2 linked regions of the Homo sapiens genome follow. The protein of the gene in region 1 purifies or fractionates together with the protein of each later gene. This does not show direct contact. Each region holds a gene or a part of one and is shown on either strand. Other genes may lie near its edges.

Evidence for each region. The genes of interacting proteins can lie anywhere in the genome.
Region 2: the proteins of TMTC3 (region 1) and SLC18A2 purify together in Homo sapiens (co-immunoprecipitation; one large-scale study listed by IntAct). This does not show direct contact.

The regions. Positions count from the first base shown.
Region 1 is NC_000012.12:88,165,516-88,170,789, forward strand, and holds part of TMTC3 (protein O-mannosyl-transferase TMTC3), read left to right. Parts: intron 1-814; coding exon 815-1,067; intron 1,068-5,274. UniProt on the Homo sapiens protein: Transfers mannosyl residues to the hydroxyl group of serine or threonine residues.
Region 2 is NC_000010.11:117,268,242-117,272,193, reverse strand, and holds part of SLC18A2 (synaptic vesicular amine transporter), read right to left. Parts: intron 2,124-3,952; coding exon 2,004-2,123; intron 1,865-2,003; coding exon 1,731-1,864; intron 1-1,730. UniProt on the Homo sapiens protein: Electrogenic antiporter that exchanges one cationic monoamine with two intravesicular protons across the membrane of secretory and synaptic vesicles.

The DNA of each region.
Region 1 (5,274 bases):
AAAATCAAGTCAAATAAGTGGCAGTAGTTGATTTTCCTTGGCTTACTCATCTTAAAATGAGAAAATGGGTCTTTTAAGTACTATATATTATAACCAATATAATTTAGAACACAGACTAAACTAATGAAATGTATATATGTTGTGGCCTGGGAAAAGATAAACTATGATATAAGCTTATATTAGTATTTACTAAGAGAGAAAGTAGAACACAAATTCTTACACAGGCCTACACAGTTACTACTTTGTACTAGAAATTTGGTTTTTAGCTTCCTAGGAGTCAAAGAAAAGAGGGAAGGAAGCTAGGTGATATGGTTTTCTCTCTCCATGACAGAAGAAAAATATACGAATTTTTTCCAGGAAGCATAATTTTTAATTAGCATTTAGCTCTAAAAGAAATGTCTCATGTAGGAAAGCATTGGTGAGTGTTTTCAAAAGTGATTCATACAACACATACAACCATAAATCTTATACAACTTTTTGTTACTACTTTTAATCAAAAGGTTTAATGGAACACTTTTGCAGTGTTGTAATATTATAGGATGCATGTCTGAATTATTCTAATAATAAACAGAAATGGATGACCTGCTTGCCTTTCAAACAGTCCTTCATAAATATCACTTCTCTGAAGTAGATGTTTCATAAAGTTTTGATAGTTTGAACTCTAGCAAGAGTCTGAGGTACACATAACATTTGTCTGTGTCTTCTGTTTAATAAGATGATATATAAAATGTTTATTGTTTAGTGTTTTACTTATGTAAATAATTCTGTACTTTAAAAGTTTTATTTGTAATCTTTTTTTTAATCCTTTATACAGGTTTGATAACCCAGCTGCTGTAAGCCCAACTCCTACAAGGCAACTAACTTTTAACTACCTCCTTCCTGTGAATGCTTGGTTGTTATTAAATCCTTCAGAGCTCTGCTGTGATTGGACCATGGGAACAATACCACTTATAGAGTCATTACTAGATATTCGAAATCTGGCCACATTTACTTTCTTTTGTTTTCTGGGGATGTTGGGAGTATTCAGTATCAGATACTCTGGTGATTCCTCCAAGACTGTTTTAATGGTAAGAAACTTTTCTTAACTTCCAAATGATGTTAACATTCAGTTGAATAAGTAAGAAACTACCTTTAATTCAGCAAAAGCATCTTTTTAGAAGCACTCCTTTCTTTGTTCAACGGCATCCCAATTTATAAACGTATTTGAGTTTATCCCAAAATTCTCAGTTAATTTGCAGGCATAATTTGACATATGTTCAGCACATAAAATATTTGTTACCTTTATCCAACTAGATTATACACTTTTTGAAGAAATTGATTATATTGTATATTATTTGTTTTCTTGGCACAGAGAAGAACATCATATAAGATATACAACTAGAAATATAGAGCTTTTCAGTTCTCATGAGCAAGGTGGTTTTTATTACTCCCTTAGATAGCTTTCACTATGTTCGGAGAACTCTGATTATTTGAACAGTTTTTTTTTTTTTTTTTTGGTGGTGGTTTTTCTGTACTGTTTTTCTTCTTATTTTCTTACCCTGTGTCACTTCATACTCATAAGAGTTATGTTTTCTCTCCCTTTTAATTATTGAAGACAGGCTGGGTGCGTTGGTTCTTGCCTGTAATCCCAGCACTTTGAGAGGCCAAGGCAGGTGGATCATTTGAGGCCAGGAGTTTGAGACCAGCCTGGTCAACCTGGTGAAACTCTCGTCTCTACTAAAAATACAAAAATTAGCTGGGTAGCTGGGTGTGGTAGTGGGTGCCTGTAATCCCAGCCACTCAGGAGGCGGAGGCACAAGAATCACTTGAACCAGGGAGGTGGAATTTGCAGTGAGCTGAGATTGCGCCACTGCACTCTAGTCTGGGCGACAGAGCAATACTCTTTCTCAAAAAAACAAAAATAAAAATAAAAGTTTATTGAAGACAATAGTACATTTTCTCAGGCATTTATTATATGTCAGAAAGTATGTTTAATGAATTGCAGATACATAATTTTTTGCTGTAGCTGCTAGATTGATTTATTCATTCAATAAAAACTTAGACTTTACCCTTTGTACAGTGCAGCATTTTAGGTGCTGAGGTTATGATAGTAAATACACAGTTCACGTTTCCAGAGAACTTACACAGTTCACGTTTCCAGAGAACTTACATTCTAGAGAAATTTGGATGTCTGAGATACAGAGTAGATTTAAAGATTGTGTTGTCTATTATCCTTGAACATGTTGAGTTTGCATTACTGTTGAAACATCCTGTTGGACATTTTGAACAGCACTTTATGTCTGGAGTTCATAGAAGATAGTTAAGTTACACATAGAAATCTTATCCATTAACATAGAGGTGGTAATTGAAACCAGGATGTAGATAAGGTGAAATGTAGATGAGGTTATAGAGCAGCCTTTCTCAACTGGGGTTTTGTCAATTCTGTCAAAGATGGTAGCTGTTAACATTCTAGATGCACAGAAGTTCACTCATACTCATAATGGAAGCCTTAGGGTATTTGGTCTTAATTCTCCCCAGAAAACAGTTGAGTGGGCTAAATACAGTGAAAAGAGAAGATACCTACTACTAGGTCTTGAGAAACTCCTATATTTAGATGTTGAAGAGAAGGATCCTGAATAGAAGACATATCGAATGAAGAGAAAAGTAGGAAAGTGTATTACAGACCAAATGGTTAACACTAACAGATGCTCTTGAGGGGGAAAGTGAGATCTAGAATCTGTTGGATTGGACTTCTTTTAGTCTGTAGGTACTTAAATGAAATTTGTTTATGTGCAGTGAGTGATTTGATGAGGAAGTGAAGAGAGCTAGTATAGACCTGTAGGAATAATTTAACTTTGACTGTTTCAAAGGATGGGATAAACTTGATTAATTCCTCCCTAAGGGAAGACTATGCTGGTCAGGCAATGGTTTCAAGTATAACAAACTGCTTATCTTATGTAGGGCCTGGGGAAGCATTGAGATCTGGCATTGGTAGACCTTCAGAGGTAGGAGGGAGCAATGTCAGGGAGAGACTGTTGATTGGTTGGCATATAGAAGCATTTTTATTGGCGTACTCAGCTACTCAGCTGACTTTTTTGAATGCGGATATCCCTGATGGGTTGGCTTGCAGGAACATATTTATTAAGCTGAAATGTTGATTGGTTAAGTGGTAGACTTAAGTTGATTAGTTAAGTGGGCTACTTGATACTATGGCAACAAAATCTTTTCCTAAGATCATGAGAACTTGTTTTGTACCTGAGGTATGTAACGAATAGGGAAGGTAGCTTAAAAAATGTATTGTTAAAGATGTTTAAGGCTGGAGAGACAAGAGCATGTTTAAATATAGATAGGAAGAATACAGTTGATTAGAAAGTGGTTAATAAATTAGAGAAGGGATAATTGTTAGTGAAGTTTATGAGGAGCAGGAGATAGGGAGCACAGGTTTGGCCTGAGATAGAAGAGACACCCCTTATGTTACAAGAAGAAATGAATGTGGATGTTGGTAGGTTTAGTAGCAGGAAATTAAAGAAATTCTTGTTTTATGGCTTCAGCTTTCATTGTAAATTAGGAAATGTAGTTGCCTGCTAAAACTGACATGGGTCAAAAATTTGAGAAAAGTAGTGAAGATTCAAAGCAGTCAAGAAGAGTGGAAGGAACTTTCCAGAGAAACCTAGAAATCCCAAACAGTCTTAAGGATAAATTTGAACTTGGTGCTCATGCTTTTATGACAGTATTAATCTGTTCAGCTTTGGGACTTTCTCTAGCAGTGCGTTGCCACTCTGGTAAATACAGACAAAAGAAATAAACGGTAGAATACATCTAAAGCTGGAGTTTTCCTAAAAGAAAGGTTAAAAAAAAAGGAGAGGTAGGGGAATTAAGGTTTCAGCAAATAAAATAATGGTGTATGTAATGTAAGCTGAATTTTAAATGTATATAAAAATGGAACAGCTGTGGCCTTAAGCATAACTCTATTTTCAGTATAGTCCTAATAAAGGTGCTATTTTTTTTATGGTGATGTTTTCTGAAGATCTCTGGAAGGGATAAGTAGAACAAAGGAGCACCTACCAGATACCATGTTAAGCACTTATTAGATAAGATGTCATATATATGTCAACAGCATAATGTAAGTTGTTATTAATCCCCATTTTATTTGTAAAGAACTAACTGGGTTCAATCGCTCATGCCTGTAATCCCAGTGCCTTGGGAGGCAGAAATGGGAAGATCACTGGAGGCCAGGAGTTTGGGACAAACCTGGGCAAGACAGTGAGATCCCACCTCTAAAAAAAATTTTTAAATTAGCCAGGCATGGTAGTGCATACCTGTAGTCCTAGGTGTTTGGGAGGCTGAGGCAGGAGGATTGCTTGAGCCCAAGAGTTCAAGAATGCAGTAGACTATGATCATGCCACTATACTCTATCCTGGATGACAGACAAGACCCTGTCAGAAAAAAAAAAAAAGGAAGAAGAAAAAAAGAAAGAAAGACTCTGGAGGTGACTGAGTGGTTTGCCGTATGTAGGAAATGAGAAGTAAAGCAGATTTGTCTCGAACTCTTTGCTCTTTCTACTAATATCCTAACATTTAAGGACAGTTTATGCTACTGGAAGAAGGAAATTACAAGAGAGTGATAGTTAACTAGGTTGGCATACATTATTAGAGAGCATATTAGGACCTGTGAATAAGTTAATCATTAGAGACATTTCTTATCCCAGAACCTATAGATTTTTCCTGAGAGATTTTTTTTGTTTTGTATAGTTTATGCATCAGTCTACAATACACTTTTGAGTGAATTTAACACTTAATTCCCTCAAGTGAAATTGCCTTGGGGCGGCCATGAATTAATAGGTATAATTTTTTTTTCAATGAACTACATACATATTCAGGAACTTTTCTTTATCTGTTTCACATTTTTTGCTGATTATTTTTGTCAAGCATCTCTGGGAAATGGAAAGTGAATTCTATGCACTCTTAGTTATTCTTACCTTTTTGATTTAAAAAAACTGAAGTGTCAGACCTATAAATTGGTATGATGGTGACCAGTTTGATGGTAGTGATTTTCCTCAGATTCAGTGTTGCCTTATTACAAATCATTAATGTGTGAACATTTGTGGAGAGTATTCTTTTCAATGTATACACCTCTATATTTCACAAATTAAGTCAAATAGAAAAAAAGGACATTCTTTCACCTTAGCCCATTAGAAGAGTCTCAAACTTGTGAAGCTAAAGGTTTAACTTGTTTATTCAATTAAGTACTGTAAAACAAATCGGGGTAACAAAATATGGAAGCAGATGTCCATAG
Region 2 (3,952 bases), on another chromosome or scaffold:
ACACACTTTTTGAGCCACAGGGCCAGTCACTCTGTTGGGATTCTTTCATTTAATCCTCACAACAATCCTATGAGGTAGACGTTATCATTTCTCCATGCAACAGAGGAGGAAACCAAGACTCATAAGCCTCTACATGGTGGGGCCAGTGTGGCTCCCAGGCCCATGCTAGCCCTAACTATCTCCCAGGAGTCTTCAAACAGTTTCCTGGGCTACAGGAGCATTTGTAGGTGATTTTATACACACACACACAGACACACACAAACACATATACACACATATATACTTTTTTTGGTCAAAAACATTGAGTAACCTCCATTCAGCCTTAAACTGTTATCATGGCAACAGAATGGCAGTTTGCATTTGTGCTGAGAATTTTCTGACTCCATTTCGGCAAGGTATTATGCTAGGGTCAGCCAAGCAAAGATGCATCTGAAATTTACACACCCAAGCTGGAAAGCAGATGTCTCCTAAGAGAGGTCTGAGAAGGTGATGTGGTTTTCAGAGCTGGGGAAGCATCTAAGCAAGCGGAGGGAAGGACAAGGGGATGGCTTCTGTCTGAGTTATTTCCACAGCACCTTCCATACCTTTTCCATGAGTCAGACGGGCCATGCATTACTCAAAAGTATCTAGTTAAATCCTATTTAAAATAAAGGGCACAAGGCCAGTGCCCAGTGCTTGATATATTTTAAAATATGTGGAATGAATTAATGAATGTAAAAAACACCCAAGACAAACACAGGCTGCACATAACCTTATTTTAAGGTTTGTCTTTAAATCTCCTTTTGGGGAAAAGCATCAAAGGGCAGTTCAGGAAATGCCAAAGCATTAAGATGCATTCAGTTCCACTGTCAGAAAGACCTTCTGATGTACTTCCAAGAGAACATTACAAACAAACCTCACATCTATTCAAACACAAAAATGCATGTCCTCTTGTTCACCTCATTCATCCTTAATCCAAGACACTCTCCTTTCACCTGGACAAGTACCTATCAGCATTTGCTGTTTTAAAAACTGGCAACACCAGATAAGAAAGATGATCAGAAACACTGAGCGTCTCCTTGCTGGGTAAGGTAAATACCTTAGAAAGGTTAAAATGACTCATGCATTTCAAAATTCAAATTTTGAATCAATTAATTTGGACTTTTTCAAAAGAGGGATGCTTTATACTCTGTATCTTGCCTATGGCTATAATTTTGGTCATAAAGTTATGAATTAAATCGTTCTGTGTGTTCACATATACCCCAAAGTCCATATACAATGATTTTTCCATAAAAATCGTAAAATCATCTCTAAAATCCTACATACAGTAAAGACAAGACAGCAACTATTACTGAATGCTGTAAGGGTTATGAGAAAAGCAACAGCACCACAAATGGCTAACCTTGGGCATAAGTACAGGAGGCAGAAAGATTGTGTCCAAGATTTTCAAGAACCATAGAAAATCAAATTGAATGATTCCAGGTTTATACTTGGTCGACAAAAGAGCAACACTGATGCTAATCTATGTACAAAAATAATTTCATTCTCCCAGTTTATAAACATAAGCTTGAAAGAAATAACTTTCACAGTAATAAAAAAATAAAAGAAGTAACTGCTCTATGTGGTACAAACTAAAAAGGAATTCTCACCATTTATGTTTGAAGGCTTTAGAATGAAACCATGAGGAAGCTATCAGGAAGGCCATGCTAAAATTATCAAGAAATGCTCACTGCATCCTAAATTTTTCTTACCATTTTTTCTTCTTTGGCAGGTGGACTTCGAAGAAAAAAGCAGAGAGGGGCAAAAAGAATATCAATTATCCCAATAATTGTCATGAGCCATGGAAATCCAATTGCCTTTGCAATAGCACCACCAGCAGAAGGACCTTTCAGGAAACAGAGAATTAGATAAAGCTCTTCCAAATGTCTTGTAGACTGAAAGATGCAAAGATTTAAACAATTTTAGTAGACGTTATCCATTACGTATTGAGGTAAAAGGTTCTTATGAAAAGCCAATGTCCTTACCTATAGCATACCCCATACAAAATGCCACATCCGCAATGGCGTACACACTCCCATAGACGGACACGTGCCGCAGGTCTACGAGGTAGCCCATGATAGGCATCATTGACGAATCCACCATTCCTGAAGACAGTCAGGGAACACAGTGTATAGAAAACGGATGTAAACCCAAAATGGGCCGAATATCAGGGAGTGTGTCTTAAACTCACCACCCTGCCAGCTCTTCCCCTTCTGTCATCACCACCTGCAAGTCTTGGGGTGATACTAATCTTTGAGTAGAAAGAATGAAGGAAGCCTTTTCTGACCCCCAGAGGAGGTCAGGTTCCCCTCGTATACAGATGTTCTCTCACAGCATCATCTCAATTGTCATTCATTCTTCAATTCTTTGCTAAATGCCCAACTCTTCTGTTGGTTTTGTTCACCCATATCCCCAGCACTTGTACATATTAGGAAGCAGCAAGCACCATTTCAATGAAAGAAACTTTCCTCATGTGCCTGCCACTGACACATGTGGAGGGGAGGGCACCAACCTCTGAGTCCCTGCCAGTGTGTTCACAGACACTGGCTCACAGCAGCCAATCATGAGCATCCCCATTTTATAGATGAGGAAACCAATACTCAGAGAGGCGAGGCTTGACCACACTCACTGAGCCAGGGAGTCTGAGCCAGGAACTCTGAACACACACCATCTTTATGCTACCTGCTCCCCACTATTCAAGAGACGAGATTCTAATGCTGGTCGTGGTTGTTGCTGGGGTGTATGTCTGTATGTATATGTGTGTATTTATGAGTATGTATGTATATGTATATATGTATCTGTGTATGTCTATGTATATGTGTGTATGCATGTGTGTATGTGTATTATGTATATGTATATATGTATCTGTGTATGTATGTGTATATATGTGTGTACATGTGTTTGCATGTGTATGTGTCTGTGTATATGTGTTTGTGTATGTACTTGTATTTGTGTATGTGTGTGTATGTGTATGTGTGTAGGTGTGTGTGTATGTGTGTATATGTATGTGTGTATGTGTGCATATGTATGTGGGTGGGTGTTTGTATGTGTATGTGTATCTACGTGTATGTATGTATGCATATGTGTGTATGTATATTTGTGTATGTGTATGTGTTTATGTGGGGGGTGTATGTGTGTATGTGTGTGTGTATGCGTGTGTCAGTGTGTGTATGTGTGTTTGTGTGTATGAATGTGTGTGTTTGTGTATGAGTGTGTATGTGTATGTATGTGTGTGCATGTGTGTTTTAGCTTCTTTTAGTTCACACACATACACACAACACACACATACACACTCATACACACAACACACACATACATGGATACACATGCATACACACACACACACACATAAACATACATACACACACATAATTTCTGAGCAGGGCCAGATGATCTCTCGGACTCCTTGGAGTTCTGGGGCGTTCTGGTCCCCCCTATTATTCTCCACCTTGGAAACACCCATAGTCTAAGCGTGTGGCCCAGGTGTGACTGGCAGGAGGTGGGTCAGGCATGCAGGTGTGCTGAGTGGTGAGGGACAAGTGAACCAGAAAACAGCAAAGCAGGGAAGCACCAAAAGGATGCAGGCCAGGGGCCGTACAGTTAGCAACCTGCAACTCTGCCAGACCTGCAGAATGGCAAGGGGAGCCGCCAGAGGACTAGCACCCTCCCTAAAAAGATGGGCCAACCAGACAGTGGAGGACAAGGGGAGGCAAGGCAGAGGACAGGCAAACGGTCACCTGAGAAGGACCTAGAGTACCATACTGAGTTCTACCCCAGCCTCAGCAGCCTTCTACCATCTGTCCTCAGTGAAAGCCATGCTGTGCCACTGTACCACTCAAAGGTTGCGTTCCTGCTTCTACAGGGGTGGACTGAGCACTTATTTTTATCATGATCAATTGGTATATTATAAATAAGAGACAAAAGTATACCATTC